Homo sapiens: one gene and its partners. The protein of the gene in region 1 purifies or fractionates together with the protein of each later gene. This does not show direct contact. Each region holds a gene or a part of one and is shown on either strand. Other genes may lie near its edges. The genes, in order: ERI2, DNAJC12 and FLNC.

Region 1 (8,363 bases):
TTATGCCTGTCAATTCCATGCAAAATTCTGAAAGAATTGGATGTTCCTGAGGTTGAACATAAGCCTGGAACTCAGAGTCAATCTGTCCAGTTGATGTGTTCAGCAACACTGCTGGAAACTCAACTAAATGAAAGAATAATCAATTGACAGTTGAATAAATAATTTTTAAATTAATCCTGTAATCATCCTAAATTAAACATGTTACCATTTTAATTAAACAACCAGTTTTCAGTAAAAGCATACTAAAATGACCAAAGCAGTGTGACATAAAGGTTATAATAAAGTTATGCTAAAGTCAAAATATTGAAGTTATGAGCATGTTGTCTTAAAAGAAAACAATATAATTAAATAAATATAAAAACCATATGGAATATAAAATTTACTTTTTTTGCAAAGGCATTTTTTTCAGTTTCTATGCCATTGAGGTGTTGTATGTAATATAAAACAACTATTTTATATAATAACACATTTAGGTATTTGAGATTTTGCTCTTTTTTATTCAACATAAGTTTTGCATTAAACTACCAATGCATAGACCATCCTGTTTTCTTAAACTTTTGGCTGATTCAGATCTATAAACTTTAAAGTGACTCATCTAGTGCCAGCTTTGGCCATTCGTAGCCCAGACTTACTTATTTCCTGGCTATGGTGGTGCTTCCCATCATTCCAGCATGTCGATTCAAAATCAATGACAATTAAGTAGTCAAACAACTGCTCTGCAAAAGATCAAGTTGTTCTTATGCTTTACCAGTGCTGAAAATGCAAGGCTACAAAATGCAAAGAAACTAAGCATACTACTCACTGGATTTGCTTCTTCCGAGATTTCCATTTGCTGGCGCAATTGACTTTCTCCTAATTAATCCAAGCTGCCTAAAAATGTGAAGCAATCCAAATATGATCAATGAACTCATTCACACTCCTGTTTGAGTAGGCTACCAAACTAATGGTACTGGGCAACAATCTCATTATTTATTGTGACTGAGGGGAAATCGAACTGGACTTTGGCTTTACCTGCACAGGCCTCGAAAGTACATATTTGCAAATTAGGCTAATTTGTTGGTTTTGTTTTTGAGACAGGGTCTTGCTCTGTCACGTAGGTTGCAGTGCAGTGGTATGATCACCACTCACTACAGCCTTAATCTCCTGGGCTCAAGCAATCCTCCCACCACAGTCTCCTGACTAAGACTACAGATGCATGCCACCACGGCCCATTAGTTTTAATTTTTTTTTTTTTTTGAAGGCAGGGCCTCACTATGTTACCCAGGCTCATCTCGAACTCCTGAGCTCCAGCAATCCTCCCACCTCAGCCCCTCAAAGTGCTGGGATTACAGGCCTGAGCCACTGTGTCCAGCCAATTTACACTAATTTTATGTTACCCTTGTTTTACAGTAATACTGAGTAACTCATTTGAGTTCCTACAATCATTTGATTGTAGAGGTAAAAATGCACTGAAAATCTTATTTTTCCCCCTGCATTTTTTAAGCTCTTGCTATGTGTACAGTGCAGTTTTAAGAAGACAAGACAATGTAGGACATGGTTCAGTCTTCCAGTTTAAAAATCTGGGTAAAGAAACAAAAGATAGGGCCAGGTAAAGTGGCTCATGCCTGTAATCCCAGCACTTTGGGAGGCCAAGGCAGGTGGATTGCTTGAGCTCCGGAGTTCGAGACCAGCCTGAGCAACATGGTGAAACCCCGTCTCTACAAAAATTATAAAACCTAGCTGGGGCGTGATGGTGCATACCTGTAGTCCCAACTACTCAGGAGGCTAAGGTGGGAGGATTGCTTGAGCCCGGGAGGTGGAGACTGCAGTGAGCCGAGATCATGCCACTGCACTCCAGCATGGGCAACAGAGCGAGACCCTGTCTCAAAAAAATAAATAAATAAAATAAAATAAGAAAAAAAGAGAAGAGCTTACTGAGGTCTTAAGTGCAAGTAAAACAAACTACTTGGTATTAGCAGGTAGAGTTTTAACTAGGCAGACACCTCCTGTAGTTTTCTGTGTTTGCTAAGAGTGGGAAGTGCCAGGATTTGGGAATAATAAATATCATTTATTGACTGCTTACTACATAGCAGGTACTAAAATTAAACTAAGATGATGGCCTCCTTTAATCCTCAACAAGTGTAGTAGCTAGAAACTTTTCCTACCTATATTTTATGGATGAGAAAACTGATTCTTAATTTGCCAAAGAACATAGCTTTGGTATGTGAACCCAAGACTGTCCAATTCTGAAGCTCATGCTATTTGCTATTATATTACATCTTTCTAGTAATCAGAAATATGCACAGCGCATCCAGGAATCAGGGAGGACACAATAATTCATATTGTGAATTAAAAGGATCACTAGGCCAGGCACCGTGGCTCACACCTGTAACCCCAGCACTTTGGGAGGTTGAGGCGGGTGGATCACCTGAGGTCGGGAGTTCGAGAACAGTCTGACCAACATAGAGAAACCCCATTTCTACTAAAAATACAAAATTAGCTGGGTGTGGTGGTGCATGCCTGTAATCCCAGCTACTTGGGAGGCTGAGGCAGGAGAATGACTTGAACCCGGGAGGCAGAGGTTATGGTAAGCCGAGATCGCACCACTGCACTCTAGCCTAGGCAACAAAACTCCGTCTCAAAAAAAAAAAAAAAGATCACTAGAAAATGGGTTTGTAAAAAGTAGAGGTTCCTCTTCAAAGACTTCCTTCCCCGTCTAATTAGGAATAAATAGTAACTTCTCTTAGAGCAAAATTTATTCAAAGACCTGTGCTAACATTCTTAAATATCTGCTAGATATAATAAAGAAATCAATGTACTTTATGTTCTTAGCTCCCACAATTTAGCCTAAATATTTGCCCTGGCATGCTTATACTGGTCCAATCAAACATTAGGTCATAGCCTGTTCCTCTTCCTTACTTAAAAGTGTTTTTACCTTTCTCAGCATTCCACAAGTTACTTCCTTCTTCCTTTGTTCTCCTCTGCCTTTGCCTCTTTTAAAAAGTTCTATGTTGCTAGTCAGTCGGGACAAATACAGAATGTGAGGTCCCGTTCCAGCCAAAGGAAACCGGACACAGCAGTAGGGTGGACGCGCCACGTTATAAATGACCCTGTCTCCTTTGTTCAGTGTACTCTCCTGGCAAAACTGCTGGCGAGTGTACCCTTTCTGCAGGAAGTAAAAATGGCCTTACTAAATAAATTAAATTTAAGTTTAAGTTCTATTTCTTTACAGCACCGAGGAACGAGCATTTCGAACAGGTTGAACACCTTGACAGATTCAGTGTGTGGCCTGCCTGAGACCTCCAACCAGTCTGCAGGGCACTGTCACGTCCAGTCGTTTCCCAAGGCCTAAAATAGGCAGGCACTGGCTCAAGGCCACACAGTCAAGGCCCCAGGGTTCGTCCGCCTCGGGCTCCTGTCACCCTCGGGTAGAAGGTGGCCCAAGGCTGAAGACCGAGGTCCAGGGAGGCGCCTTTCCAACCGTGCCAGAGAGGGCAGGTCGCAGACGCCGGGGCTGCGGGGAATAGAGGCCCTCACCGCAGATGCCACCTGCCGTGCCCTGCTCTGCGGCCAACGCCAGCGCTGGACCCGGAGCTACCCGCCCCCGACCCGGAACTCCCTCGAGTACCGCGCGAGCCGCTTGGTCGCCATTCCCGACACTCCTTGCTTTTCCAAGTCCAGCTGCCGGAAGTCGCTCGACTTCTACTTCCGGTCCGTTCAAAAAGCCCGCGAGGCTGAGGGGCGGTTGTTGTTGGCAGCTGTGGCTAAGGAGGGGAGAACCTCTGCTCCCCGCCCGTCTTCTCTTCTGCGTTTCCCGGGCTAGGGGGCGTGGGGAGTGGTTTTAGGCGGCGAAGCCGCTCGGCAGCACCTTCCTTCTTTGCCAGGCAGACGCCCGTTGTAGCCGTTGGGGAACCGTTGAGAATCCGGTAACCGATGCGGACGGTAAAGCCGTTTGGGTTAGAGCGGCGCGGGTGTCCAGTCCGCGGAACGGGGAGATCGTTGGCACCTTCGCTTTTTTAGGGGAACGGGGATAGTTCGGTAAACTGAATTGAGAAGCGGATCCGAGGGAGGTTGAAAGCTGTCAAGCCCGTGTAGCTCTCCCGCTAGGAGGCGGCACGCGGGGGAATAGGGGCGCTGGAGTTTCCCCAGCTCTACCTCATCTTTCTCCACAGCCATGGAGCCAGAGAGGGAAGGGACCGAGAGACACCCCAGGAAGGTCAGGGAAAGCAGGCAGGCCCCAAATAAGCTGGTCGGGGCAGCTGAGGCGATGAAAGCCGGTTGGGATCTCGAGGAGAGTCAGCCCGAGGCCAAGGTGAGCAACGGGGATCCCGAGCAGGCGGCCCTAGGCGGTTTGGAGCTCCCGGACCCTCGCCCAACCGCCGTCGGGGGCACTGGATTCGGGCGGGCTCTCCGCCCTGGCCTCTCCGAACCTGATCCCTGATCATTAAAATGGGAATGAGTGTAATACCACCTTCCTGCAACAAGGCTGTCATTGGCTGTCACTGGGATAGTGAGTCGGCCGAGTGCGGTGGCTCATGCCTGTAATTCCAGCACTTTGGGAGGCCGAGGCGGGCGGATCACGAGGTCAGGAGTTCGAGACCAGCCTTGTCAACATGGAGAAATCCCCGTCTCTACCAAAAACACACACACAAAATTAGCCAGGCGTGGTAGTGGGTGACTGTAATCCCACCTACTTGGGAGGCTGAGGCAGGAGAATCGCTAGAACCCAGGAACCAGAGGTTGCAATGAGCCAAGACCACGCCATTACACTCCACCCTGGACAACAAGAAAGAAATCACGTCTCAGAAAAAAAAAAAAAAAAAAAAAAACTGGGATGGTGGGCCGGGTGCAGTGGCTCACGCCTGTAATCCCAGCAGTTTGGGAGGCCAAGGCGGGAGCATCATTTGAGGCCAGGAATTCAAGACCAGCCTGGGCAATATAGCAAGGACCCCATCTCTTAAAAAAAAAAAACAAAAAACAAAACAAAAAAAAAACTGCCTGTACATAATAGGAATGTTCATCGATATCCTGGGGCACAAAAATACAATTCCTTGCCCTCGTGCAGTTTACATTCCAGTAGGGCGGGGGTCCCCAACCCCCTGTGCACAGACTAGTACCTGCCTGTCCATGGGGTCCCCAACCCACTGTCCACAGCTGGCCTGTTAGGAACCGGGCCACAAAGCAGCAGGAGGTGAGCGGTGGCCGATAGAACGTTACCCCCTGAGCTCCACCTAGGCATTAGATTCTCATAGGAATGTGCCAAACCTATTGTGAGCCCTATTGTGAACTTTGCATACGAGGGTCCTAGGTGGCATGCTGCTTATGAGACTCTAATGATAAATGTAATGCACTTGAATCACCCCGAAACCATCCCCCCAGCCCTTCTCCCAGTCAGTGGAAAGATTATCTAACACGAAACCGGTCCCTGGTGCCAACGGTTGGGGACCGCTGCAATAGGGGAATAAAAAGGCTGATTATCCCTATCATCCTTACCATTTACTGAGAACTAAATATACTTCATTCATCCCTTCAGTCGTTCATTGGGCTTTTTTGTTTGTTTTTGTGTTTGAGACAGGGTCTCTGCTCTGCTGGACTCAGGCTGGACTACAGTGGTGTGACAAGGATCCTCCTGTCTCTGCCTCTTACAGGCATGAGCCACTGCACCCAGCTATTCATTGGTTTTTATTGTCTGCCATGTGCTGGGGCACTGACCTAGGTGCTTGGGGTACATCAGTGAATCAAGTTCACTGCCCTAGTAGGTCTTATATTCTAGTGGGCAGAGACAAATGATAAAAATAAGTTATAATATGTGAGAGAGGGATTAGGGATGTGATTTTTTTTTTTTTTTTTTTTTTTGAGGTGGAGTCTCCCTCTGTTGCCCAGGCTGGATTTGGCTCACTGCAACTTTTGCCTCCCAGGTTGAAGTGATCCTCCCACCTCAGTTCCACCAATTAGATGGGACTACAGATGTGTGCCACTGTGCCAGCTAATTTTTCTTTTTTTTGTAGAGACGGGGTTTTGCCATGTTGCCCAGGCTGGTCTTGAACTCCTGGACTTAAGCGATCTGTCCACCTTGGCCTCTGCAAGTTCTGGGATTACAGGCATGAGCCACTGCTTTTTTTTGTTTTTTTTTCGTTTGTTTTTTTTTAAAGAGAGACAGGGTCTCCAACTCCTGGGATCAGGAGATTCACCTGCCTCAGCCTCCCATAGTGCTGGGGATTACATGTGTGAGCCACTGCACCCAGCTGAAAATTTTTTTTATTAAAGTGGGATTCCAGTTTTTTTGCCTATCAAATTTGCAAAAAAATGTTTAATGTTTATGTGGTTAGTGTAAGGAGATTGACAATCACATATTTTGTTATGTTGAAACAATCTCAAACTTTTAGAAAAGTTGTAAGAATAGTATCAAAACCTCCCCTCAACCAACATTTGAAAGTAGTTGCTGACACAATGGTCTTTTTCTACCCACCCTCAAGATATTTTATTATATATTCTCTATAAACCTACATAATCACAATGCAACCATCAAAATTGGAAATTACCATGGATATATCATGACCATCTACTCCTCAGATGCCATCCAAATTTTCTGTAGTTGTTTGAATAACGCTTTTTAGCAATAAGATCCAGTCTAGAATTGTGTTAAATTTAATTGTCATGTCTCCATCAAACAGTTCCTTAGTCTTCCCTTGATATTCATGACTTTACTGCATTTGAATAATCCTGGGCCAATTATTTTGTTGAATGTCCCTTAAATTAGATTTGTCTGTTTCTTCATTGATTAGATTCAGGTTATATACATCTTTAGCAGGAATATCACAGGAGTGATACTCTGCTCCCTTGCAGATTGTACACAATTTGATTTGTCCCATTATTGGTGATATTAACCTTGATAACTAGATTAAGATAGTTTCTACTAAAGTTCTCTAAAGTTATCTTTTTCTCTGTGTAATTTTCATTCTTATTTTTTTGAGACAGGATCTTGCTATATTGCCCAGGCTAGTCTGGAATTCCTGGGCTAAAGCAATCCTCCCACCTCAGCCTCAGTGTAGCTGAGGTTACAGGCCCAAGCCACTGCTCCCAGCTGTCTGTAATGTGCTTCCTCAAACACTTTGGGCTTATGCATTTACTTTTTTATCAGTATGATGAACTCAGTGGTACCTATTTTGTTCAGTGTGTTACTATCTTTTACTGGATTGTGATGCTTTAAATATCCAAGATTTTGTCATTAAGCTAGCTTCTGTGGCCTTTTGACATGACAACATCATTCTTTGAGCATGTCATTACTTTCTGGCACAAGAAGATATTCCAGGCTCATATGTGCTTTCCCTGCCCCAAGCCTGGAATCAGTCATTTCTCTTAGGGTACCTGGTTCTTTTTAGTGTAGAATGATATTTAGATTTGGGTGCTATGGTGATGTTAATACAGATGCTTCTTCACTTAAAATAAGATTACGTCCCAATAAATCCATCGTAAATTGAAAATTTTGTAAGTTGAAAGTGTATACACACACACATACTTACATTTAAATATTTTTCTGTATTTTACTTATGTGAATTCACATCAGTATCTCCACTTTAATCCAAATCCAGTAATACAGGGTTCATTCTATTCATTCTAGTTTTCTCCTTTTTTTTTTTCTTTTGAGACAAAAGTCTTGCCCTGTCACCCAGGCTGGAGTGCAGTGGCATGATCTCTGCTCATTGCAACCTCTCCCTCCCAGCGATTCTCCTACCTCAGCCTCCTGAGTAGCTGGGATTACAGGCACCCACCACCACGCCTGGCTAATTTTTGTACATTTAGTGGAGATGGCGTTTGACCATGTTGGCTGGTCTCAAATTCATGACCTCAAGTGATCTGCCCACCTCGGCTTCGCAAAGTGTTGGGATTACAGGCGTGAACCACCGCGCCCAGTCCATTTTCATATTTGTAACTTCCTTCACTAACAATGAGAAACCCGACACCCAACATCTTCAGTATATTTGATCAATCCTTATTGCTGCCGCTGACCCACCCTCACACCCTCTTGACTCTGCTTAGGCTCTGTCACCCTGCACTGGCTCCATCACCTTGTACCAGGTCATCTTCCTTTGTGAGCACCCTCATCCTATGACAGGTGGCTGCCACCATCCCTCTCAGGTTTATACCCTCATCCTGTTCAGGCTTTAAACCCTGCAACAGGCCACTACTGTCCCTCAGCATTGATGCCCTCCTTACCCTAAATAGTTTCTGACATCTGATGTCAGGACTCACTGCCCTCCCTTCCTTCCTGTATGGGTGACGTCCTTGTGCTGCTGAGGCTTTGACACCCCACACCAGAGCACCCTCCTGCATGAATGTCCTCAGCTTCTGCTCCTAGTCCTGGACTGTCTCCTCTACAGGAC
Region 2 (8,118 bases), on another chromosome or scaffold:
GTGATAAGTAAAATTAGAATATCAAATTGTTTTGAAATTATAACAGCTAAAATGCTTTCGGGCATGATGAGTTCTGGTTAATTTTAGAGCATCAAATGAAGGAATACCTGAAGTAAAGGCAATCTATCCAATACAAATCAAGTAAAGGAAATGTCATATTAGTCAAAAATGTCATAAAAATATTTTTGAAATGAGAAGCATACCTATAAAAAGAAGAGAAAAGCCAGGTGCGGTGGCTCACGTCTGTAATCCCAGTATTTTAGGAGGCCGAGGTAGGCAGATCACGAGGTCAAGAGATGAAGACCATCCTGGCCAACACGGTGAAACCCCGTCTCTACTAAAAATACAAAAATTAGCTAGGCATGGTGGCATGTGCCTGTAGTCCCAGCTACTCAGGAAGCTGAGGAAGGAGAATCACTTGAACCTGGGAGGCGGAGGTTGCAGTGACCTGAGATTGCACCACTGCACTCCAGCCCGGCAACAGAGTGAGACTCCATCTCAAAAAAACAAAAAAAAGAGAGAAAAAATGACACACACACACACACACACACACACACACATATATATAAAGAAGTGACAATATTATGACAAACATTTCATTAAAAATAAATAATTGTTATCTAGATATGATATGCCATTGACAGACCAGTAAAATACATCCAGTAAAAGGAATGTTGAGACAAGGAAGTATGACTCCACCTGGTAACCATATTTTGAATATTACACATTAACAACGAGATTATTTTCTGTAAGGCTGTCCAAAATGAATCCTCCTTCTATGTAGATTGAAAAGACAACAGCATAACTTCAAAAGACTGACTATGCAGCCATAAAAAAGAATGAGTTCATGTCCTTTGCAGGGACATGGATGAAGCTGGAAACCATCATTCTCAGCAAACTAACACAGGAACAGAAAACCAAACACCACATGTTCTCACTCATAAGTGGGAGATGAACAATGAGAGCACATGGACACAGGCAGGGGAACATCACACACCGGGGCCTGTCGGGGGGTGGGGGAGAAGGGGAGGGACAGCATTAGGACAAATACCTAATGTATGCGGGGCTTAAAACCTAGATGATGGGTTGATAGGTGCAGCAAACCACCCTGGCACATGTGTATCTATGTAACAAACCTGCACATTCTGCACAGGGATCCCAGAACTTAAAGTAAAATTGAAAAAAAAAAAAAAGGACTGACTAAATAGGTCACAAGATTATGGAGATATAATGACCCTTACTGTATAAGCTAGCATGTATTTTTTTAAATCCAAATTGTCAGCCTTATCAAGTTAAATTATATTCCTTTGATTTTAAATTATTCCTTCAAAAATTGTTTGATAATAGTATAATTTCAACTGTGAATAACACATGGTAAAAATGGTAATAAGCTTTCTCAATTGCTATAAGCAAATCACCACCAACATAAACAAGAATAACACATTCTTGAGAAGAAATATGCAACTAAAAGACCATTATAAGCTATTCTGGGGGCGGGGCAGTTTTTTTAATTTCAACGTGTCTAAGATAACTTCCTCAGCATGGCAAAAATAGAGATTTTAATCCTTTGTGTCCAGTAATGCATTCTATTCTTAAAACAAAACTAAGCACATTTTATTAATGAACTACTGCCTTTATGAAACAACAATAAATATAAAAACATTTTGCTTTACAATGTTAATTTTACTACTTAGATTTTAATAAAAATAAATAAAATAAAATACATTAATTATAAAACATAAATATATCCTAATAACATGATTTAATAATATATAATTTAATAATGAATATATTTTATATTAATCTCAACATTATTTGAAATATTGAAAAATTGGAAATAAAATATTTAACAATAAGAGAATAATTCAACTGTGGTAACACAGCAAAATAAAATATTTTGCAACCACTAAAAAGTGTACAAGGAAAGTTTAATAGCATGGAAAATTCCTTGTTATAATACGAATGGGTAAAAAGCAGGAATCAACAAGTACATATAATATCCTCCCAAACAGGTCTTTAAAGAATATACATAGAAAGAATAGTGGAGATTAATATGCCAAAATATTAATACTGTTATCCTTGGGAGAGAGAATTATAAATGATTTTTCCATAATTTAAAAAACCTCTACAACCTTTATAATTGTTTATTGAGAACTTTAAAAATTTTGTTTTCTTACAGATCCAGTGAACAGCTACAGAGTTTTCACATGTTTTGTTTCAGAAGCCACCCTTTCAAGAAGTAATTTCTGTCACACAATTTGAAATATTAACATAAAGGGATGCTTCTTTGTTTCTATTTTGACTGCTCACATAGGAGTACACATTTTAATAAAATATATTAAAATCCCTAATTTTATAAGAAATTTCATTTCACCTCAATTATGAGTCACCATAATAAAGGTATAGCTTATATATACTGTGAAACACTGCCATCAGAAATTACAATAAAATTTCAAATATTTATTTTTAATATACTATATTGTGAAACAGCATATGGCCATGTGCCAGAATACACATATTTAATCAGAAGCTTCCGTAAAATTCCCATAGGACACTATTCAAGTAAAATCCCAACATACATTTAAATTCTTAACTTTCTCTGAGCCAAAAGTGCTTTAAAACAACACAAGGTTAGGTTTGTAGGCAATGTGACTAAAAATTCAAAGTTAAAACCTTAAATAAAAACTTGAAATACTATTGTGAAAAAGAATACTGTTGTGATAAAAATATTATCCACTGTCTTACCGAAGATAGTTCATCACATCCCAGTAATGTGTAGTAATCTTCAGTATCTTCTGACCTGTAATTCAGTATTGCATCCATTTAGATGACTTAATCAGTCCTTCTTCCCTCGGAAACAAGAGGCACAGTGAGCTTCGAATTAACAGGAAGAAACTCTTTAAATCTGAATTAGAGCAGCATGTTCCACATAGCAAAAACTAGCTTTAAGACTGGCCACAGTCAATACACCAGATGTCATCCTAGACCTTTGTAAACTCTGCCTCTCATTGGCTGTTTACAGAGAAGAAAAGAACAGTCCACGTGTCTATTATTGCAGTGCTGCCTGGGATCTGTAGTTTGAGTTTATATAAGAGATGCATGTGAACCATTTGTCTTATGAGTTAATAAAGACTGTCTATTTTCAGAAACTTGCCACATTAGCCACTTCTCCATCTCCTATATATTTTTGTCTCTATCCTTTAAAAAAAAAAAAGAAAAAAAATGTGAAGCAATGTGGTAAAATCTTAGGATGTGTTAATAAGGATAATGGGAGCTTTTCTTAGTGTTTAAAATACTTAATTTTATTTTTTATTTGTTTATTTTCAGACAAGGTCTCACTCTGTTGCCCAGGCTGGAGTGCAGTGGTGCAGTCTCAGCTCACTGCAACCTCTGTCTCCCCAGCTCAAGCGATCCTCCCACCTCAGCCTCCCTAGTAGCTGGGACCACAGGCACATAGCACCATGTCCAGCTAATTTTTGGTTTTTGTTTTGTTATGTTTTAAGAGGAGGGGGTTTTGCCATGTTGCCCAGCCTGGTCTCGAACTCGTGAGCTCAAAGCGATCTGCCTGCTTCGGCCTCCCAACGTGCTGGGATTACAGGCATGATCCACAGCGCCCAGCCAATAACACAGTCTTGATTTTTATGGAGCTTACGCTCTGATGGAGGAAGACAGCTGAAAAACATGCAAAAAAAAAAAAAAAAAAAAAAAACACGATCATTTAAAATAGTGATTTGTAAGCCAGGCATGGTGGCCCACACCTGTAGTCCAGCTACTTGGGAGGCTGAGGCAGAAGAATCACTTGGACCCAGGAGGCAGAGGCTGTAGTGAGCCGAGATGGTGCCACTGCACTCCAGACTGCGCTACAGAGCAAGACTCCATCTCAAAAAATAAAAAAATAAAATAGTGATTTGTGCTTTAGAGAAAATAAAATAGGACAATGAGAAGAACTGTATGATAACTCGGGTCAGATGGCTGTGCTATTTCTCCTGGGTTGGTTCTCCAGACTCAGGAGTGTCTCTAGTCTGAGGTAGGTCCAGGCAATTTATGTTTCAGTTCATTTTGGCCCTAAGAAACACAGTTCAGGTCTGGGATTTAGAGAACAAGGTGAGTGGTCAGGGACACAACACTTTGACTGCCTTAACACTTTTTTTGTTTCATTTTTCAGAGAGACAGGGTCTCGCCATATTGCCCAGATTGGTCTTAAACCCCTGGACTCAAGTGATCCTCCCACTTTGGCCTCCCAAAGTGCTGCGATTACAGATGTGAGCCAACATGCCTGGCCCTTAACACTTTAAATTCCCCCACCTGAGGGGAAAAAATAGTTTTTCTTTTAGCCCACCTATATACATCTTTTTAAAGGTTTATTTCTGAAGAGAAGCAAGAAAAAGCACTGAAACACCATTTTTTACTAATCCTTCATTGTACATGCTGTCTTGCTAAAAGTTCTATATAGAATTTTAAGGCCAGGCACGGTGGCTCATGCCATAATCCCAGCACTGGGAGACCGAGGCGGGCGGATCACGAGGTCGGGGGTTCGAGACCAGCCTGACCAATGTGATGAAATCCTGTCTCTACTAAAAATACAAAAATTAGCCAAGCATGGTGGCACGCACCTGTAGTCCCAGCTACTCAGGATGCTGAGGCAGGAGAATTGCTTGAATCTGGGAGGCGGAGGTTGCAGCGAGCCGAGATCGTGCCACTGGACTCCAGCCTGGGTGACAGAGCCAGGGTCCATCTCAAAAAAAAAAAAAAAAATTAGATCACAATATCTTGATCTAAATCACTGATAAATGGCCTTTTAATGATGTGAAGTTGCCATGGTGGAAAGCAGTATGGTGGTTCCTCAAAAAATTAAACATAGAACTACCATGTGACCCCACAATTCCACTTCTGGGTAAATACACAAAAGAATTGAAAGCAGGAACTTGAAAAGATATTTATATACTCATGTTCATCAAGGCATTAGTCATAATAGCCAAAAAGTGGAGGCAATGCAAGTGTCCATCAACGGATGACTAAACAAATGGAATGTTAGGGCTGGGCATGGTGGCTCACACCTGTAATCCCAGAACTTTGGGAGGCCGAGGCAGGCAGATCACTTGAGGCCAGGAGTTCGAAACCAGCCTGGCCAACATGGCAAAACTTCATCTCTACTGAAAATACAAAAAAGTTAGCTGGGTGTGGTGGCACATGCCTGTAATTTCAGCTACTTGGGAGGCTGAGGCACGAGAATTGCTTGAACCCAGGAGGTGGAGGCTGCAATGAGCTGAGATCACACCACTGCACTCCAGCCTGGGTGACAGAGCACGACCTTGTCTAACACAAACAAACAAAAAAGTGTGGTATTGGCCAGTTGCAGTGGCTTATGCCTGTAATCCCAGCACTTTGAGAGACCAAGGCAGGAGGATTGTTTGAGCCCAGGAGTTCAAAACCAGCCTGCGCAACATAGTGAGACTCTGTCCTTATTTTTATATTAATAATATAATTTTTTTTTTGAGACAGAGTTTCACTCTTGTTGCCCAGGCTGGAGTGCAATGGTGTGATCTTGGCTCACCGCAACCTCCACCTGGGTTCAAGTGATTCTCCTGCCTCAGCCTCCTGAGTAGCTGGGATTACAGGCATGTGCCACCATGCCCGACTAATTTTGAATTTTTAGTAGAGATGGGGTTTCTCCATGTTGGTCAGGCTGGTTTCAAATTCCAGACTTCAGGTGATCCACCCGCCGTGGCCTCCCAAAGTGCTGGGATTAGAGGGGTGAGCCACTGTACCCGGCTTAAAAGTTTTTAAAGTGTGTGGTATCTTCCCCCTGGCTCTCTTACTCCTGTTCTCACCATGTAACATGTCTACTCCCACTTCACCTTCTGCCATAAGTAAAAGCTCCCTGAAGCCTACCCAGAAGCTGAACGGATGCTGGCTCCATGCTTCCACATTCTGCAGAACTGTGAGCCAATTAAACGTCTTTTCAGTATAAATTACCAAGTCTTAGGTATTCCTTCATAGCAATGCAAGAATGGCCTGACACAAAAAATTGGTACCAAAGAGTGGGGCCTTGCTATAAAGATACCTGACAAAGTGGGAGCAGCTTTGAAACTGGGTAATGGGCAGAGGCTGGAAGACTTTGGAGGGCTCACAAGAAGACAGGAAGATGAGGGAAAGTTTGGAACTCCTGCAAGACTGGTTAAATGGTTGTGACCAAAATGCTGACGGTGATATGGACAGTGAAGTCCAGGCTAATGAGGTCTCAGATGGAAATGAGGAACTTATTGAGAACTGGAATAAAGGTCACTCTTGTTATGCCTTACCAAGGAACAAAGCTATATGGTATTCATGCCCTAGGAATCTGTGGAAGTTTGAACTTAAGAGTGATGACTTAGGGTATCTGGCAGAAGAAATTTCTAGGCAGCAAAGTGTTCAAGAAGTGACCTGGCTGCTTCTAACAGCCTATCCTCAGATGCAGAAGCAAAGAAATGACTTAAAGTTGGAACTTATATTTAAAGGGAAAGCAGAATGTAAAAGTTTGGAAAATTTGCAACCTAGCCATGTGGTAGAAAACAAAAACCCATTTTCAGGGCAAGAATCTAAGCAGACTGCAGAGCAACCACTTGCTAAAGAGATTTGCATAAATGAAAGGGAGCCAGGTCAGAGGCTGATAGACAAGACAATGAGAAAAAAACCTCAAAGGCATTTCAGAGATCTAAGAGGCAGCCCCTCTCATCACAGGCCTAGAGGCCCAGGAGAAAAGAATGATTTAGGGGGCCAGGCTCAGGGTGCTGCTGCCCTGTACCACTATGGGAGGCTGCTTCCTGCATCCAGCCACTTCAGCCCCAGCCTCAGCTCAAAGGGGCCCAGGTACAGCTCAGGCCACAGCTCAGAAGGGTGCAGGCTGTAAGCCTTGGGTGGCTTCCATGTGGTGTTAAGCCTGCAGGTGTTCAGAATGCAAGAGTGAAGGAGGTTTGGCAGCTTCCTCCTAGATTTCAGAGAATATATAAGAAAGCCTGGGTACCCAAGAAGAAGCCTACCACAGGGACAGAGCCCTCACCAAGAGCCTCTACTAGGGCAGTGCAGAGGGGAAATGGGAGGTTGGAACTTTAACATAGTTTGGAAAGTCTCCCTGCCTGAATCTCATGTTGAATTGTAATCCTCAGTATTGGAGGTAAGGCCTGGTGGGAAGTGATCAGATCATGGGACTGGATTTCTCATGAATGGTTGAGCACCATCCTCTTGATGCTGTCCTCACAAAAATGAGTGACTTCTCTGAGATCTGGCTGTTCAAAAGTGTGTATCACTTCACTCTCTGTCTCTCTTGCTCCTGCTCCCACCATAGGAGATGCCTGCTCCCCCTTCACCTTCTGCTGTGATTGCAAGCTTCCTGAGGTATCCCCAAAAGCAGATGCCTGTGTTATGCTCCCTGTGCAGCCTGCAGAACCATAAGCCAATTAAATCTCTTTTCTTTATAAATTACCCAGTCCCAGGTATGTCTTTTCTTTTCTTTTCTTTTTTTTGAGACAGAGTCTCACTCTGTCGCCCATGCTGGAGTGCAATGGCACAATGTCAGCTCACTGCAACCTCTGCCTCCTGGGTTCGAGCAATTCTCTGCCTCAGCCTCCTGAGTAGCTGGGATTACAGGCGCCTGCCACCACACCTGGCTAATTTTTTGTATTTTTTAGTAGAGATGGGATTTCACCATCTTGGCCAGGCTGGTCTTGAACTCCTGACCTCGTGATCCACCCACCTTGGCCTCCCAAAGTGCTGGACTACAGGCATGAGCCACTGCACCCGGACTTAGGTATTTCTTTTTTCTTTTTTTTTTTTTTTGTGATGGAGTCTTGCTCTGTCACCCAGACTGGAGTGCGACGGCGCAGTCTTGGCTCACTGCAACCTCCACCCCCCGGGTTCAAGCGATTCTTCTGCCTCAGCCTCTCAAGTAGCTGGGACTACAGGCACAAGCAACCATGCCCAGCTAATTTTTGTATTTTTAGTAGGGACAAGGTTTCACCATACTGACCAGTCTGGTTTCAAACTCCTGACCTTGTGATCCGCCTGCCTCAGCCTCCCAAAGTGCTGGGATTACAGACATGAGCCACTGCACCTGGCCAGGTATTTCTTTATAAAAATGTG
Region 3 (7,731 bases), on another chromosome or scaffold:
GTTTGGGGGATGTCAGGGCAACACTGGGATTCCTCCTAGCCCTGGCCCTTCCCTCCCCCATCAGTTAAACCTCCTCCTCTGCTCAGACCTGCCCTGGCCTTCGGGGCCAGTCTGCCAGCATCAAGCCTGGTCCGCAGCACCCTCCCATCCCGCCGTGAGGACCCGGCCGGCCCAGTGTGCGGTGCTCACCCTCCTGCTGCCGGGTGATGCTGCCGAAGGATCCCAGGCGCTCCCGGCCCAGGAAGTCCCCAAACACAGCAGGGAAGGGGTCCCCGCCGACCTGGGTGGACTCCTCCACCCGCACCTCGCGCTTTGTCTCCCCGCCCCGCGTCTTGCTGATCTCCGTGCGCTCCGTGCGGGTGTAGGTGTGGCTGCTGCGTGTGAAGGTGCGTGTCAGGCGCTCCTGGGCAGACACCATCTGGAACCAGTTTCCTGTGTGGTCAAGGGAGCCAGGGTGAGGGAGGGAAGCGAGGGGTGAGGAAGCAGGGTGGAGGCCCGACAGGTGGGCTCTGGCCCGGGCCAGCCCTCTCCCACCACCCGCCCCACCCAGGGTCCTCCAGGCTTCTACCTGGGATCTTGAGGTTGAGGTCACAGGTGCTGCCGATGGTGGCGATGGAAGGTGCCTGTCTCCGCCGGGTGATGCTCTCCTTCATGCGGCCCTCGCCGGTCACCTTCACAGTGAAGGGGCTTCCTGAAGTGGGGACAAAGGGTGGGTCAGGAACCTCAGAGCCCCAGCCTCCTGGCCTCCCTGTCTCTCGCCACCGACCTCTGCCCAGAGCCTTACCAGGCACGTGCTTGTCAGCAAACTTGATGTTGATGATGTAGGTGCCGGGCTCGGTGGGGCAGTAGGTGACTTTGCATGTCCCGTCCTCCATGTCCTCACAGTTGATGTCCACCTTGCTTGGGCCTTCAATACTCAGCCCCAAGCCCCCATAACCTGGGGGAAAGCAAGGAACACATCTCCCTCAGTCCTAGGCTGGCCAAGCCACAATGCTTTCCTCTCCCCAGACTGCAGGCTCCACCCAGAATGGGCACCGATGTGTGTAGTGACCACTAACAAAAATGGCTCAGTGGGAGGAGCGGGGGCACCACGGGACAGGCGGTCTGGAAAATTCCCTAAGGTAAGCCTCTTGGATTCCAGTGAGCAAGGGAGGGACAGAAACTCAGGACAGCTGAGCTTTCTCTTAAAAGGGAGAGAACTGATGCGGGGCCATTCACTTTCCCGCAAGGGGCCCCAGAATGCGAATCCTGACGCAGACTGGTCAGGAAGTTTCAGGGAGGAGAGAGTGCGGCCAAGGGGGTGCTGGGCAGGACGAGGACAAGTGCCTGTGGGAGGCACCCGCTGGAATGGGGGCTCTCTGGGGCAGGAGGTACCTGCATTGCGAGTGTCCACGATGAACTCTGCCACCTGGAATGTGTGTCCCTCGGAAAGCCCCTTGCCCCAGACCCGCACCTTGCTGGCGTCCCCGATCTCAGATGGCCCCACCAGGATCTTGAAGGGGCTGTTGGTGACATGCTTGCCACTCTTGCGCACGCTCACCACGTGCTCCCCGACCTCCTTGGGGGTGAAGGAGATCCCTGTGGAAAGTGGGTGTTAGGCAGAGCATCCTGTGGGCCCCCACCCCTGAGGTCCCCGTGAGGCCCCACGCTCACCAATGTGCCGGTTGGGCAGGCGCTTCAGCAGGCAGGGCTCCTCGTTGCCCGAGGGGGCACGGATGCTGGCGGTCAGCTGGCTCAGATCACTCTCGGTGATCTTCAGTGACACGTCCGTGGAGGTGCCCACATTCAGCTGTGAGGTCCTCATGGAGTCATCACCTGGTGGGGGAGTTGGGGCATCAGGCTGCTATGACTCCAGGCAGGCCCTGCCCTCACAGGGCTCAGGAACCCTCCTGAGCAGCCCCCCCTGGACTCAACAGACACGGGGGGCCACTCCCAGGTGCACGGAGGCCCAAGGCCTGGAAAGTGCAGTCTGCACTCACATGTGAGCTGCCAGAGACTAAGAGGGGCCTGTACCCCAATTCCACTGTGGCTGCCTCAGTCCTTGTGGGCTAAATCCCTAAAGGAAACCTCCTGCATTTTAACCCTGAGTCACATGATGTTGTGATAACAAAACACTAGACTGGACCGCCCAGACCCCTTCCTCGCTGTGTGGCTGTAATCATGTTGCTTGGCCTCTCTGGGACAGGGGTTCCTTATCTATCAAAAGGATTATCCGTGCCCTAACTTCTTAAGAGTGACTTCATGCTGGGCGTGGTGGCTCACACCTGTAATCCCAGCACTTTGGGAGGCCGAGGCAGGTGGATCACAAGGTCAGGAGATCGAGACCATCCTGGCTAACACGGTGAAACCCTGTCTCTACTAAAAATACAAAAAATAGCCAGGCATGGTGGCGGGCGCCTGGAGTCCCAGCTACTTGGGAGGCTGAGGCAGAAGAATGGCATGAACCCGGGAGGCGGAGGTTGCAGTGAGCCGAGATCGTGCCACTGTACTCCAGCCTGGGTGACAGAGCAAGACTCCCTCTCAAAAACAAAAACAAAACAAATGACTTCAAAGACTAAATGAGGCAATGTGTTTTCAGGCACAAGGAGTGGCTGACTGCTTCTTAGCTGCCGTGGAGAACAGAGTGTTTTTACATTTATCAAAATATGACCCCTCACACCTTGAAGGGCCTCTGCCCTAATGTCACGAGTGACTTGAACGGGCTGGGCTTGCACATGAGTGCACTGTATGCGGTGTGTGTGCCTCATGGGCTGTACATGCCCATACACCCGCCTCACCTGTGATCTTGGCTGTGAAGGGGCTCCCCGGGATGTGCTTGTCATCGAAGCGCACGATGATGCTGTAGTCTCCAGGCGCAGTCGGCAGATAGGACACGGTGCAGGTGCCATCCTTGTTGTCCTTACAGGTGATCTCTGCCTTGGATGGGCCCTCCACGGCCAGTGACAGACCCCCTGTAGGTGGAGGTGTGGCCAAGATCAGAGGTCCTGCCCTCACCCCTGCCCCTGGTGAGTCTCCACCCCAGCCTGCGACCTGCAGCTCCCTCACCTTCTCCAGCATCTTTGGTGACAATAGTGAAGGTGGCTGGCTTGTTGACCATGCCATGGCTCAGGCCTGGCCCATAGGCACTGACATGGCGGCTGTTGATGGCATCCACATAGAACTGTAAGGGGCTCCCTGGGGATACAGAGAAAAAGGGGGCTGGGTCAGCATCAGGGATTATCTGAGCCCACCTTGGCCCCAGCACCTTCCAGCAGCCTCCCTGCCAACCCCCTCCGTCTGTGCCGTAGGGACCCAGCTGGTGGAGGTCTGCTTCCCACCAGGGTATAAGCCTCCCTGGGGCCTCGCCTGGTGTCTGCACACAGCGGGTGCTCAATAAATATTTGTTGAAAGAGGGAAGGCAGGACTGAAGCTACGGCCTGCTCCTCTCACCCAAGCCCCAGCCCAGCCCAGCCCCTAACTCACCAGGGATGTGGTTGCCGTCATACTTGATCCCCATCTGGTGCAGGCCTTTCTCAGTGGGTGCATACCTCACCGTGATGGTGCCGTCCTTGTTGTCGGTGATGTTGGGCCGTGCCGTCTTCCCCGAGGGCATCCGCACCTCTCCTGCAGGGCAGACACAGTTACGTGGAGACCCTGGTTTCCCCCACTGCAACCTCCCTGCTGTCCCAGGCCTGGTCCTGAGTGCTTCTGCTGCCACCCGAGAAGCCAGGCATCAAGAGACAGCCTGTGGCAGTGGCCTGAGCCCTGAACTGGGGACAGATGGCTTGCACCTGAGTTCTGGCTCTGCCCAACTTGCTGTGTGACCCTGGGTAGAGCTCACTTCCTCTCTCTGGGCCTTTGTTTTCATCATTAAGACACAGGACTGGGCCTGGAAGAGGGTTTCTCCCCTCAGCCCTCATGCCTGGGAGCCACAGGGCAGTACCTGTGAGCTCCCCTTTCTGCACCGCGAAGGGGATGACCAGGTTGAAGGGCCTCAGCATGGACTCCATTGGCTCCACAGGCACCACTGGCTCCTCTGTGGCCTGCAGCAGGTGAGAGGGAACAGTCAGTGACTGGGGAAGGCCCAGGAGTTTGACCCATGCTATGACTGAAGCTGGAGAGTGAGGAAAGAACAAGGTAGTTAATCATGAAACCAGCGTGGCAGGAGAGGTGCGTCAGCTGCAAGAGAAGGAGTGCTGTGCCCAAGTGGGGTTCCATCTGCCCAGCCTAACTCTTGCCTGCTCCCCAAGAGGCCCCCAGACCATGTCCCCGCCCTGGCTGCAGAGGAGTAGAGAGAAGAAATGAAGGAAGGGGAGGAGGAGGAGGACATCGCCTGGTGGGAGGCGCAGTACCCAGTGTGTGGGGCGGGCGCCGGGCCGGGGAGGAGCGTAGGGCTGGCGCAGCTGTGGCACTTCAGAGGGCTCCTCCTCGTGCGGCAGGGGGTCACACGCCTGGGGAGGCAAGGCACGGGGGCACAGGGTGTGGCAGCCTCACAGGCCTAGGGGCTGACTCAGAGAATGGCCCAGGAACCTGAAATGCTGGGTGATAATTTGGGTGTTCATCCTCCTGCAGGGCAGCCTCTGGGGAGATGGAGCTGGGGATGGTGGAGAGCACAGCGGGTTCCTCCAGAGACAGCTGACAGCACTGGGCAGGGGGCAGGGCCATGCTCTCCTCCCACTTCGGGGGTGCTGTGGGGAAAGTTAAGGCTCCATCCTGGAGCACTCTGGCCCCAGGAGCCCTCAGAGAAGTGGGATTCCTTGGGGACAGTTATCTGGGATCCCTGCTGCTGCTAAAAGGGCCAGGCCCCCCTCCCCAGCCATCTAGTCTTGCTGTGGCTACAGAACTTACCAGCACGTGGAAGGGGCTGTTGGGGATGTGCTCACCCCCGAAGCGGATGGTGATGACGTACTTGCCCGGCTCGGGCGCTGTGTAGTAGATGTCAAAGGTACCGTCATGGTTCTCAACCACATCCACATCGAGCTCTGCCCCATCCGGCGTGGACACCGTGCATGTCACCTTCCCCTCACCGGCTGCCTTGGCATCCACCGTGATCACCGTCTCCTGCCCAATCTGGATTCGAGGGCCCAGGCAGGCACCTGCCATGCGGGAGATCCTGCTCAGGGAGCTGGTGGGCTGGAGCCAGCCCTCTCTGTTCCCGCTGCCCGCCCCCTACCGCCAACCACCCTGGCCCACACCAAGAAGAGGAGAGAAAGGGCACTCACCCAGGCCATGGCCTCCAATGGACACTGGAAAGAGAGAAGAGTGTGAGGCCAGGCGGTGCTCAACGTGGGCTGGGGCATTGGGCGGGGGTGAGGGAGGGAGGGGCCAGGGCTAGGGCATGTGTGCTCTCCGACCAGCAGACCCCTGGGGACCAGGCCAGGGTTCTGGAGGGGCTTTGAGGGGCTGGGTGGTGAGCAGGGCACGGGCAGCGGGTGGGCACCCACCTGTGACGAGGCACTTGCTGGCATCCCCAGTGGGCAGAGCATGGATGCGGAAGGGCGAGTAGGGGATCTCATCACCGCCATACTTGATGGTGATGGTGTACCGGCCACTCATGTCCGGCAGGTAGGACACAGTGTACGTGCCATCCCCATTGTCCCGGATGTTGGCCTTCTTGGGCTTACCCTCGGGGTCCTGAGGGAGAAGCAGAGGTCAAGGCCCGCCTGTGCCTGGAGCATGACCTGCGGGGTGGGATGCACAGAGACTCACCAAGATCTGGACAGTGAGCAACCCCTCGCCCGCGTCCCGTGCGTCGATGGTGAACTCCACAGGCAGGCTGGCAGGGATGCCAGAGGCGTTGAGGCCTGGGCCGCTGGCCCGCACCTTGCTGGCATCATGAGCTGGGAGGACCTTGATCTTGAAGGGGCTTGAGGAGCAGAAGGGATAAACAGTTGGCTGGGTGGCATGGACGGGGCGGTGGGGGGTGATCTCATCTTGAGCCAGAGTCCTCCCCATAGACATGGGCAGGAGGGAGGACTGTGGGGCAGGGAGGAGGGACCAGTTCCCAGAAGCCGATGACATTCCATGTCTGGGGGTGGGGGCACTCTGGGACTCCCTCGACAGAGCCAGGGTACGTCTCCATTCCCCAGGAAGGTGCTGTGGGAGGGTCCAGGAGGAGGCCCTGGCCCAGGCCTCCTGCACTCTTCCTAAGGCGCTAGGTTTGCCGTAAAAGCTCCTGGGGCAGGAAAGCCTCACAGCAGAGAGCCCCGGGGAAGAGCGGGATGGGGTGGCGAGACTGGACGAGGCTGAGAGCTGGGAGAGGCTCTCCCAGGGGACTCCAGCAGTGATCCTGAGTGCCACCCCAGCAGGAGCACCCCAGAGCTCAGCCGCAGCACAGGAGCCCAGGGCTGGTCCTCACCTGCGTGGCACCTCCTGGTCAGCATACTTGACGGCTACCGTGTAGGGCCCGTCAGTGGCTGGGGTGTAGTGGACAGTGTGGGTGCCATCTCCATTGTCCCGCACCTCCACAGGCTCGGCCACACCTGGGCAAGGGGCACAGGGTCAGCAGAGCCTCCGGGCGTCCCGCCCCACCTCCCTCCTCCCTGCCCCGGCCATTCTATACCTGTGGGGCCCAGCACAGCCACCTGCAGGGGCGCCCGGCCAGCTTGACTGCAATCCACTGTGAAGGTCTGAGGAACCCGGGCCCTGACACCAGCCCCCAGCCCTGGCCCTGAGCACTTCACCTTCCCAGGGTCCACCACATCCTTCACTGGCACGCGGAACGGGCTCCCTGTGAGGAGAAGGACATTAGACCCTGCCCACCAGCCCTGATGGGTCCCCCTGATGCTGAGGAGCCTCGGAGGAGGAGGCCTTCCCTGCCTTTGAAATGCCCACAGGGAAGCCAGACCAACATGGGAAAATGGCTAGGAACTTGCTAAGAAAACACACACAAGAATAAATGAACTTGACTGCAGACTGAGGCTGGGCAAACCTCACTCATGTGGGTCCCAGGCCTGGAAGAGAAGGCCTTCCTAAATTAATAAAATGTGAAAATAAAATGTTTTCAAAAATGAAATGTATTTCTGACACTGTGGCTGAAATAATAAAAAGATGGGAAATTAGATAAGGGAAAAAATTTCCAATTTCAGCAGTCCCAAGTCATACAATATTTGAAGACATGACCTGCCCGGGCAGCTGGGTCTGCAGAGGGCAGGGGAGTTCTGCAGACGATGCGTGCAAGAAGGCCCAAGGCTGGCCTGAGCCGCCAAGAGGAGTGGACTGTGTCTGAGTTTCTGGACACACAGTGAGTGGTGGACCTGCAAAGCCAAGGTCTTGAGCTCCAGACAAGGGGCTAGGAGGCCAGAGTGTGTTCCTGTGATTGACTAGGGGGGCTGTCACATCAACCCTCATTGCCTGCCTCCTCCACGTCCTCCCTCTGGCCGGGCTCCGGCCCCAACCCACTCTAGGCTGTCCTCTCTATGAACATTCTTACCCAACTTCCTTCCAGTTTCCCCCTTGTGGGGCGAGCATCCTGCACCCTCCCTTGTCTTCCCTGAGACCCCGACCACTCTCTCTGCACACCTGGGATGGGCCGCCCCCCGAAGGTGATGTTGACGTCATAGTCTCCAGGAGTGAAGGGGATGTACTCCACGGTGCAGCTACCATCCTTGTTGTCCTTGCAGGACATCTTGGCTTCCGAGGGACCCTCGATGGCTAGGCCAAGGCCCCCGGTGCCCGCTCCCCTGAGAGATAACATCCCCCCATCAGCTTCATAAGACCAGTGAGTGAGGATGAGGGAGTAGCTGAATGGGG

Evidence for each region.
Region 2: the proteins of ERI2 (region 1) and DNAJC12 purify together in Homo sapiens (affinity purification with mass spectrometry; 3 studies listed by BioGRID and IntAct, with this or other methods). This does not show direct contact.
Region 3: the proteins of ERI2 (region 1) and FLNC purify together in Homo sapiens (affinity purification with mass spectrometry; 2 studies listed by BioGRID and IntAct, with this or other methods). This does not show direct contact.

What each region holds. Positions count from the first base shown.
Region 1 is NC_000016.10:20,802,801-20,811,163, forward strand, and holds the start of ERI2 (ERI1 exoribonuclease 2), read right to left. Parts: upstream 3,673-8,363; 5' UTR 3,631-3,672; coding exon 3,608-3,630; intron 871-3,607; coding exon 803-870; intron 717-802; coding exon 633-716; intron 124-632; coding exon 1-123. Other genes in the region: REXO5 (RNA exonuclease 5), read left to right, coding at 4,154-4,291.
Region 2 is NC_000010.11:67,835,189-67,843,306, forward strand, and holds the start of DNAJC12 (dnaJ homolog subfamily C member 12), read right to left. Parts: upstream 3,001-8,118; 5' UTR 2,824-3,000; coding exon 2,746-2,823; intron 1-2,745. UniProt on the Homo sapiens protein: Probable co-chaperone that participates in the proper folding of biopterin-dependent aromatic amino acid hydroxylases, which include phenylalanine-4-hydroxylase (PAH), tyrosine 3-monooxygenase (TH) and peripheral and neuronal tryptophan hydroxylases (TPH1 and TPH2).
Region 3 is NC_000007.14:128,846,675-128,854,405, reverse strand, and holds part of FLNC (filamin-C), read right to left. Parts: intron 7,662-7,731; coding exon 7,501-7,661; intron 6,710-7,500; coding exon 6,542-6,709; intron 6,462-6,541; coding exon 6,338-6,461; intron 5,846-6,337; coding exon 5,689-5,845; intron 5,614-5,688; coding exon 5,424-5,613; intron 5,226-5,423; coding exon 5,202-5,225; intron 5,076-5,201; coding exon 4,828-5,075; intron 4,431-4,827; coding exon 4,332-4,430; intron 4,245-4,331; exon of another isoform or gene 4,023-4,244; coding exon 3,923-4,022; intron 3,604-3,922; coding exon 3,463-3,603; intron 3,175-3,462; coding exon 3,046-3,174; intron 3,006-3,045; exon of another isoform or gene 2,952-3,005; coding exon 2,778-2,951; intron 1,816-2,777; coding exon 1,654-1,815; intron 1,579-1,653; coding exon 1,375-1,578; intron 1,122-1,374; exon of another isoform or gene 1,009-1,121; intron 938-1,008; coding exon 785-937; intron 692-784; coding exon 569-691; intron 433-568; coding exon 190-432; intron 1-189.